2 separate regions of the Homo sapiens genome follow, and region 2 is linked to region 1. A link means that fine-mapping ties the variant in region 1 to the expression of a gene that starts in the linked region. Tissue or cell type: whole blood. Region 1 holds a variant in brackets; the other region holds the start of a gene. All regions are shown on one strand. Distances are from middle to middle.

What was found. PIP is the estimated chance that this variant, and not a neighbour inherited with it, causes the effect.
Region 2: ZNF528-AS1 starts here. The variant in region 1 is fine-mapped to the expression of ZNF528-AS1 in whole blood (TOPMed, PIP above 0.99).

The regions. Positions count from the first base shown.
Region 1 is chr19:52,374,491-52,379,637 of GRCh38, forward strand. The region is part of intron 3 of ZNF880 (zinc finger protein 880); the gene reads left to right. Among named protein-coding and RNA genes, the nearest start is that of ZNF880, 7.1 kb to the left of the region's middle. The variant C/T (reference allele first, on the strand shown) is at 3,023.
Region 2 is chr19:52,394,967-52,400,113 of GRCh38, forward strand. ZNF528-AS1 (ZNF528 antisense RNA 1) reads right to left here and starts at 2,791. Exons shown (of 7, transcript NR_125345.1): 1 at 2,496-2,791; 2 at 2,229-2,301; 3 at 1,644-1,786; 4 at 1,399-1,533; 5 at 632-784. It overlaps ZNF528 (zinc finger protein 528), which reads left to right and starts at 2,883. Exons shown (of 7, transcript NM_032423.3): 1 at 2,883-2,938; 2 at 3,401-3,653. It also overlaps a transcript of ZNF880 not described here. RefSeq lists an enhancer at 2,195-3,394.

The DNA.
Region 1 (5,147 bases):
CTCTGTCACCCAGGCTGTCGTAGAGTGGCAATCATCAGTGGCAATCGTGGCTTAACTCATAGCCTCAAACTCCTGGTCTCAAGTGATCCTCCTTCCTCTGCTTCCGAAAGTGGTGGGATTACAAGCATGAGCCACTGTACCCTGCAAAACCACACTTTGAGTTTCTGTTTGGGAGCTCTCTGCAAGTGAGAGAATTCTTTGGGAAAATAAAAGTTTAAATCCTGTGAGTTCTGATTGAAGTTTGTTTTGTCTTGTTTTGTTGAGACAAGTTCTTGCTCTGTTGCCCAGGCTGGAGTGTAGTGGTGGTGTGATCGTAGCCCGTGTACCCTCAGTCTTTGGGCTCATATGATCATCTCACCTCTGCCTGCCAAGTCACTGGGACTGTAGGCATGTGCCATTGCATCTTGCTAATTTTTAAAAAATCTTTTGTGGAGATGAGGTCTCACTAGGTTGCACAGGCTTGTCTTGAACTCCTGGCCTCAACTATTCTTCCCACCTGGCCTGCCAACGTGCTTGGATTGCAGGCATGACCCACCATGCCTGGCCTAGAAGGGAAATTTTTCTTTGCCCCCTCTTACTGCTGCTGTGTTCTTTGTTTTTGGCGTTTTGTTTGTTTGCTTGTTTGTTTTTGAGATGGAGTCTCACTGTGTTACCCAAACTAGTATTGGTTTTTTTTTTTTAATTTTTAATTTATTTTTATTAATTTATTTTTTTGAGACAGAGTCTTGCTCTGTCGCCCAGGCTGGAGGGCAGTGGCACGATCCTGGCTTACTGCAACCTCTGCCTCTCAATTTCAAGCCATTCTCATGCTTCAGGCTCCCAAGTAGCTGGGATTACAGGCGTGCACCACCAAGCCTGGCTAATTTTTTTTTTGTATTTTTAGTGGAAACGGGGTTTCACCATGTTGACCAAGCTGGTCTCGAACTCCTGGCCTCAAGTGATCCACCCACCTTGGCCTCCCAAAGTGCTGGGATTACAAACATGAGCCACTGCTCCCGGGCATAATGTTATTATTATAATTATTTCAATAGGGTTTTGGGGAACAAGTGGCATTTGGTTACGTAGATAAGTTCTTTAGTGGTGGTTTCTGAGATTTTGGTGCACCCATCACCCGAGCATTGTACGCTACATTCAATATATAGTCTTTTATCCCTCACCCCCCTCCCACCTTTTCCCCCAAGACCCCAAAGTCCATTGTATCGCCTTTGCATCCTCCCAGTTTAACTCCCACTTATGAGTGAGAACATACAATGTTTGGTTTTCCCTCAGGCTTTGGGCTCATATGATCATCTTGCTCTGCCTGCCAAGTCACTGGGACTGTAGGCATGTGCCATTGCATCTTGCTAATTTTTAAAAAATGTTCTGTGGAGATGAGGTCTCACTAGGTTGCCCAGGCTTGTCTTGAACTCCTGGCCTCAACTATTCTTCCCACCTGGCCTGCCTAAGTGAGTTAGTTCATTTAGAATAATGGCCTTCAATTCTATCCAGGTTGCTGCAAATGCCATTATTTCGTTCCATTTTATGGCTGAATAGCATTCCATATTAGTATGCCACATTTTCTTTATCCATTTGTTGATTGATGGGCATTTGAGCTGGTTCTCTATTTTTGCATTTGTGAATTGTGCTGCTATAAACGTGTGTGGAAGTGTCTCTTTTGTATAATGACTTCTTTTCCTCTGGGTAGATACCCAGGAGTGGTTTTGCTGGATCAAATGGTAGATCTACTTTTAGTCCTTTAAGGAATCTCCCCGCTGTTCTCCATAGTGGTTGTACTAGTTTCCATTCCCACCAGCAGTGTAAAGTGGTCCCTTTCACCACATCCACACCAACATGTAGTATGTTTTGATTTTTTGATTATGGCCATTCTTGCAGGAGTAAGAGGGTATTATATTATAGTTTTAATTTGCATTTCTCTGATAATTAGTGATGTGGAGTCTTTCTTCATATGTTTGTTGGCCATTTCTGTATTTTCTTTTGACAATTGTCTATTCATGTCCTTAGCACCGCCCCCCCCCCCCCTTTTTTTTTTTTTTTTTTGAGACAGCGTCTTGCTCTGTCGCCCAGGCTGGAGTGCAATGGCATGATCTCGGCCCCCTGCAACCTCCACCTCCCGAGTTCAAGCAATTCTCCTGCCTCAGCCTCCTGAGTAGCTGGGATTACAGGTACCCACTGCCAAGCCCAGCTAATTTTTGTATTTTTAGTAGAGACGGGGTTTCATTATGTTGGCCAGGATGGTCTCAAACTATTCACCTCAGGTGATCCACCCGCCTTGGGCTCCCAAAATGCTGGGATTATAGGGGTGAGAGACTGTGCCCGGCCCTTAGCCCACTTTTTGATAGGATTGTTTGTTTTTTTCTTGCTGATTTGTTTGAGTTCCTTGTAGATTCTGGATATTAGTCCTTTGTCAGATACATAGTTTGCAAAGATTTTCTCCCATGCTGTGGGTTGTCTGTTTACTCTGCCGATTATTTCTTTTGCTGTGTCATAGGCAAAGTCTTTATCATGATGGACAACACCCTGTCATATGGCTTATGAGAATTCTTTGATTCCATCATTCTGAAGGACATAGGGAGGGCTGTGTCAAAGGGGTCTCTTTTTCCCATGGTCTCTGTTTCTGTAGTGATTTTATCTGATGCTAAGTTTATACATCAAACCTGGGGTCTGCATAGACCTGCCTCCTTGACCTGTGTATGGTCCACACAATTTCCTATATGAGGAAGACCTCATCAGAAGATAGGAAAACATTGGCTGCTCTTTTTTTTTTGCATGTGGGGCTCAAAGATTGCATGAAGGCGTCTCAACCCCTCTTTGCCTCTTGAGGTCTTGTGGAGATAGGGAAAATCCAGTGTTTTTTCTACTCTCAAATGCCACTCAGCAGAGAGCGCTTCACTTCTGGTCAACCGAATGGGTGGGGATTTCTACGCACCAACAACCAGTTTTTCAGTGGCCATCTAATAGTTTTCTATGATGCCTTTCTGATATTATGTATCTGGAATTAGAGTCAGATCCCACAGGCAAAGGG[C/T]TGAGTTCCCAAACACGTCCCCTACCTCAGCAACCAATCACAAGTAGCAGGTTGTCACCTTTCCTTCTTACCAACCAGCTACAGGTTGGGGTTCCCTCAAGCCCCTTCTTGGGGTTGATTACTTTGCTAGGGTGGCCCACAGAACTCAGTAAAACACTTTCTTAGGTTCACTGCCTCACGCTGAAGGATGTTTTGAAGGATACAGATGAAGAGCCGGATGAGGAGATTCACAGGGGGAGGCACGTGGGAAGATTCACTGGGTGTGCCACCCTCCAGGCACCTGTGTGTCTTCAGCATTTGGAAGATCTCGTGACCCCATAGTTCAGGGATTATTTTTTATTTTTTATTTTTTTTAGACAGAGTCTTGCTCTGTCACAGGCTGTAGTGAAGTGGCACAATCTCAGCTCACTGCAATCTCCGCCTCCTGGTTCAAGTGATTCTTCTAGTTCAGGGATTTTTTATGGAGGCTTCATCACATAGGTGTGATTGATATTATCTCAGTCTCCAGCCCCTCTTCCCTTCCTGGAGGATAGTGGATAGGGCTGACACTTTCATGCTTGTAATCATGGCCTGGTCTTTCTGATGATCAGCCCAGTCCAGGGAACCTACAGAGGTTGCCTCATTAGAACAAATCACATTCCTATCACCCAGAACATTCCAAGGAGTTAGGAGCTCTGTGTCAGGAGCCAACGAAGAGACCAATGTATGCATTTCTTATTTTACAAGGTTCCTCAGCCATTCTTCAGTTGTGCTTTGTCCATACTTTAGTGGTGTGTGTAACGGGAGTAGGTGGCTCTTCTGAGATTTTTACTCAGCAGAATGGGAAAGACAGTTGACAGAAGGATCCTTTAGGCCGGGGCGGTGTCTCACGCCTGTAATCCCAGCACTTTGGGAGGCTAGGGCAGGCGGATCAGAAAGTCAGGGGATCGAAACCATCCTGGCCAACATGGTGAAACCCCGTCTCTACTAAGAATATAAAAAAAAATTAGCTGGGTGTGGTGGTGCATGCCTGTAGTCCCAGCTACTCGGGAGGCTGAGGCAGGAGAATCGCTTCAACCCGGGAGGTGGAGGTTGCAGTGAGCCAAGATCGTGCCACTGCACTCTGGCCTGGTGACAGAGCGGGACTCTGTCTCAAAAAAAAAAAAAAAAAAAAAGAAAGATCCTTTATTGGATGCCCGAGTCCTCGTGACAGAATAGCTCACTAGAATGATACATCTGGTTATAAGACTAAAGCCACTGCTGATTTTATTTTGGGCCTTTCCATGTATTAGAAATGAACTTGGGGCCAGGCACAGTGGCTCACACTTGTAATCCTAGCACTTTGGGAGGCTGAGGTTAGTGGATTGATTGAGCCCAGGAGTTTGAGACCAGCCTGGACAACATGGCAAGAACTTGTCTCTACAAAACATATAAAAATTTGGCTGTGGTGGTGCACACCTGTAGTCCTAGCTACTCAGGAGGCTGAGGTGGGAGAATCACCTGAGCCCAGGAGGTCAAGGCAGCAGCCAGCCATGATGGCGTCACTGAACTCCAGCCTTAGTACAGAGTGATACCCTGTCTCAGAAAAAAAAATAAGAAGAAAATAAAAAATAAATGAACTTATTTGTATTTAGTCAACAGTTCCATATGGTACTCTTTGTCTTCTTTGTTTTATATGTGTGGGGATGTTGTATCAGGGAATGGCCATTGATTTATATATTTTTGAGGACCTTTATTTTATTTTATTTTTTGCCTAGGAGTTTATGTAACACTTATATACACTCCAGGAGTTTTGGAATGGGTAGTATAAATATTTCTTTTCCTTTCCTTTACCTGATTAAGATATTAAATAATATTTTTGTCAGTTACGTTTATTAGAATGTATAAATTGGGAATTTATTTTCATTTTTCTTTTTTTTTTTTTGATAGAGTCTCGCTCTGTCACCCAGGCTGGAGTGCAATGCCGCGATCTCGGCTCACTGCAACCTTCGCTTCCTGGATTCAAGCAATTCTTCTGCATCGGCCTCCCCAAGTGCTAGGATTACAGGCGTGAGCCTCCGCGCCTGGCCTCATTTTTAATTTTTTTAGAGACAGGGTTTCACTCTGCTGCCCAGGCTAGATGGCAGTGGTGCAGTTTTAGGTCGCT
Region 2 (5,147 bases), 20 kb after region 1:
GACCATATAATTCAGGATGTCTATCTAAAGATCCTTATCTAGACCACATTTGCAAACTCCCTTTTGATATATCCAGTAACACAGGTCATAGGGATGTAGCTACCTTCCTTTGGGAAAGGTATTAGCCTGCACAACCAACATATTTTCTGTTGGTACACTATTTTTTTTGTCCTGTCCTCAGGCCACCCTCCTTCCTCAGCCTCCCAAAGCACTGTGATTACAGGCCTCAGACACCACACCCAGCCTGTCACTTTTATTTCTTTTTCCTTTATTTCACTGGCTGGAACCTTTCATATTGTGTGGAATAGTAGTGATAAGAGGGGACATTCTTGCCCTCATCCCAACCTCTAGGGGAAACTATGCTTTCACCAGTTTGTATGATGATTCTGATTCTGTAAGGATTGGTAGGTGATCTTGAGTTGAGGAAGTTTCCCATGATACTGCTTTCCATACTGACCGCAGTATTTCAGATTCCCACAAAATGTACGAAAATAGTTTCTCCACATCCTTGCTTGTGAAGCAGGTTCACTGCACACTGGTTGCCAATGTGTCTGAGTTGAGTGAGAGATAATCTCACGGACACACAGTAAGTTACATGAAGTGAATTTGTTACATACAGATCGGCAGATACCTGGGATTCATGCATTCTGCTCCCCAAGGCTCAGGAAAACCACCCAGTGCAGATGCAGTCTCTCTGTATGTGTTCAACTTGCATCACAGCTGTGGGAGGCTGGAAGGCGGCCCATCCTGGGTTTCATGCTCCAGGGATGCATGGCACGTTGGCCTAAAGCAACAAAGGGGATCCTGTTCTGGGGATCTGGAACACATCCTGTCCTTTTCTCACCGGTCCCTTCCTCTCAGGATGTTGCTTTTCCAGCACATTCTATATTCATTCTTGGGAACTACAAGTGAGAAGTCAGATGCAACTGGGCCAATTCAACCCCACTTGAATGCTGTCCTGCAGTCTCTCCGCCAATCCAGATATCCCTTTTATTTTTATATTTTTTGAGACGGAGTCTCGCTCTGTCTCCCAGGCTGGAGTGCAGTGGCGCAATCTTGGCTTACTGCACCTCCACCTCCCAGATTCAAGCAATTCTTGTGTCTCAGCCTCTCGAGTAGCTGGGACTACAGGCGTGTGCCACCATGCCTGGCTAATTTTTTTTTTTTTTTTTTTTGTATTTTTAGTAGAGACTTCGTTTCACCATGTTAACCAGGCTGGTCTCTAATTCCCGACCTCAGGTGATCTGCCCTCCTCGGCCTCCCAAAGTATTGGGATTACAGGCGTGAGCCACCACGCCTGGCCCAGATATCCCCTTTAATAAAGCTAGTCCATTTACATGTGCACTGACCTCCCTGGATCTGGAGGTAGAGGCTGGTCTCAGGAGATTGAAGTAATACCTCGACTGGCAGAATCTCAGGGCAACATCATTGAGGTACAGCCAGTTGCATTTCACTAGGCTCAAGAGGATTGCTGCCTCAAGCAGGATAACCAGGCCTGCCTGGAGCAGTGCCGTAGTCCAGGATCCCAGTGACCTAGGTGAGAAGTTGGTACTCAGATCAAAGAAAAGTTCTTCAGGTGACCCCACTGTCTGCAGCCAATGGGCCTGCTTGTGGGCCTTATGTATTTGTGTTTCAAAAATAACCTGAGGGCTTGATGTGGGGGTCCTTATCTCCCATGCAAGGTGATTCATGCCTATAATCCGAGCACTTTGGTAGGAGCAGATGGGAAGACTGCTTGAGGCTAGAAGCTGGAGACCAGCCTGGGCAACAAAACCAGACTACATCTCTATTAAAAACAAAGCAACAAACAGTAGAAAATTAGCACAGTGGAGAGGCACAGGCCTTTACTCACAGCTACTCGGCAGGCTGAGACAGGGGGTCACCTGCCCAGGACCCCAGGAAGTCAAGGTTGCAGTGAGCTATGATTGCGCCACTGCATTTCAGCCTCGGTGGCAGAGACCCTGTCTTAAAATTTTAAAAAGTATTAAAAAACTAAGTTGGACCGGGCGTGGTGGCTACTCTGGAGGCTGGGGCAAGAGAATCACTTGAACCCAGGAGGCGGAGGTTACAGTGAGCTGAGTGCCTGCCACTGTACTCCCGCCTGGGGGACAGAGGGAGACGCTGTCTCAAAACAACAACAACAACAAAAAACTACGTCGTTTATGGCTATTTTTATAAGTTACTGGCTTTTTTTTTTTAAAGAATCGGTGACTTATCTTCACACTGGCCTTAGTCCTCCATGCCCAACACGATGTCCCTAGGAAAGTCTCTGGAATTGAGCACAGGGTTGACCTTCACCGTCTAGAGTGAATGGGGAAGATAAATGAAAAGTATTTATCTTCTATGGGCACTGGCATGAAATAGAACATTCTACCCTGGCAGGGTTTTGCATTTCACATTTTAGCTTGCATCATCCCCTTCACAGACAATTCCAAAGTGTGTTAATTCAATTCCTAAAGCTTCCCTTCCCTTCCTCCCTTCCCTTCCCTCCTTACTTTTCTTTCTTGTCCATTTATTTTCGGTTTTTTTCTCTTTCTTTCTTGGTTTTCTTTCTCTTTTTCAACTTCTCTTTCTTTTCTCTTTCTCTTTACTCTCTCTCTTCTCTCTCTTTCTGCTTCCAGGGTAGGTGGGACTTGAAATTCATTTTAATAGAAGGAATTTTCGTGGATATAATCTACAACCGATTTTGCTCTGCGCAGGTAAGATCCGTTTTCAGACCAAAACCCTGAAAACAAGCGCAGCCAGTCAAGCGAACGGAAGCGCAGGCCCGGCCCAGGCTTTGTCCCGGCCCGCCCTGGTCCCAGCCAGTCCGGCCTCTAGGATGCGCGCGCAATTTCGTGCAAACCCGGAAGCGGACCGCGGGGGGCGAACGCCTAGAGCGCAGTTTCCGGTAGACCCGGAAGCCGATTGCAGGGAGAAACTGTTTTCGCAGCAGTGCGTGAGTTTCCCTTTGTCTATGTTAAGTCTAGGCTAGCCAGTTCTTCTCTGCTTCTATACCCGGGAGCTGAGGGGCATGCAGACCTTGAAATCCCGGCACCGCTCCCTCCACCCCGAGTAAATTCAGACATCCTTTGAGAGTCTGGGAGTCGCTTTCTGCGTGTTAAAATCGCTTGGAGGCTGGTCGTGTGCCCGGTCTTTTTGTCATTTACCCACGTAGACACCTCCTATCGTGGGGTTTACCTGCTTCAAATCCTTTAGTAACCCCTACACACGCCCCGCACCACGTAAAATCCTCACTCTCCGTTCCCCTAGCCTCGCCCTTCTTTGCCCCTAGAGCTCAGCGCCCCAACAGGGCACGAGAGGCCTCGTCCTCTGCCCAGACCTGGTTTCTGCAGACTCCACCCCTCTCCTGACCCACTCCTGCCTTTTTGCTCCTTAATCTGGACCCTCTGTTCCCCAGGCCTCCCTTTTCCAGCCACCGGTTCTCCTGACCCCGAGTGTGGGGGGTGACTTCAGTCTCCTGACATCCAGTGTTCTCTCGAGCCAGTTTCCAGCCCACAGAAAATGAGCTCTTCCGGAAGTGGGCATCTTATTCCAATCCCCTCCCTGTGAATGTGTGGAGAAAAAGAGATGGGAACGAGGCAGAGGAAATAGAGAAATTTTGAAAGAGAAATGAAGAATGAGAGACCCATTAACAGAAGGCAAAGTAGAAGGTGAGTGAGGGGTTTGCAGAGGCACAGTGAAAGAAGGTGCCGAGAAAATAGCAGGGGAGAAAAGTAACTGTAAAAATATAGACAAACCTGGGTCTGTAGAAAGACGAAATTCAACAAGATAGGGAAGGCTTCTCAGACAGAGGGGGGAGAGGAGGAGGGATTTGGAGCCAGGTCAGACAGAGCAGCGTGGTGCTGGGACAGCCAGAGGGGGCAGCTGGTCACAAGGAGAACAGGGAGAACCACAGCAGGGGGAGGCCTGGGATCTAAGGGTGCCAGAGAGTGGGGACAGGGGTGTGTAATATCGAAGATGGAATTTAACAGGGAGACCCCAAGGGGAGCTGAGATGTGGGAGGAAAGAGGCAGAAATATATGGAGATTAGGGACAATGAAAGATTGGGCAGAAAGAGGAATAAGAGGTGAAACAAGTTGTAAAAATGGATCAGAACAGGTGGGAGAGAAGGAATAGAGGGAAGAATGGGACAAAGAGAAGAGGAGGGACTCAAAATGAACAGAATCCTAGGGGAAAATAGAGAAAAAAAGAGCTAGGAAAAAAGATGAGAATGAGAGATATGTACAGAATGAGGCAGGGAAACAGTAGTGAGGAAAGAGGGGGACCCTGGTTACAGATGAGTGGTGAGTTGATTGGAAATTATGATTGAATTGTGACATATTAATTTTTCTATAATATAAAATTTGTTTAGAACACATGAGGCTAGGAGCTGTGGCTCACACGTGTAATCCCAGTACTTTGGGAAGCTGAGGTGAGCGGATCACTTGAGGTCAGGAGTTGAGACCAGCCTGGCCAACATGTGAAACCCATCTCTAGTAAAAATACAAAAATTAGCTGGGCCTGATGGCCTGCGCCTGTAATCCCAGCTACTCTGGAGGCTGAGGCAGGAGAATCGCTTAATCCTGGGAGGCAGAGGTTGCAGTGAGCCGAGATCGTGTCACTGCACTCCAGGTTAGGTGACAGAGCAAGACTCCATCTCAAAAAACAAAAAACAAAAAACCACACATGAAGATGAGAATTGGAACACTATTTATAAGGCACTCTTCTCTTTTCTTGGGATGGACTAGGGTGTGAGTGTATAAGTTAGGAAAAACCAGTGTGTTTTTGTGTTCACAGTGAACACAATAAAGAGCGCTCAACACAGAATGCCTCATCTCTGGTCACCAAAGTAATATGGGAATTACTTGTCACCAACAAGCAGTTCTTCGTCAGACAGCACCTGGGTGTTCTGTAATTTTACTCAGTTTAACTGGTCAGTGTAGGAACAACCACAGACACATTTTGATCACTAAAGGTGAGGGATTCTCCTTTGGGTGTGAGAGTAGTAAAAACAGTGTGGTTTTTTCCTGTCTCAAACAGTAAGGGGAAGAATTTTCCAACAGGCCCACTCACCTGTCTCTAGGACTGTGTTCTTAGTAGTGACTGGGAATTGTCTGTCCCTGCTCCTGGCTGCTGCTGATGCTGAGACTGTGTGCCACAGGCCA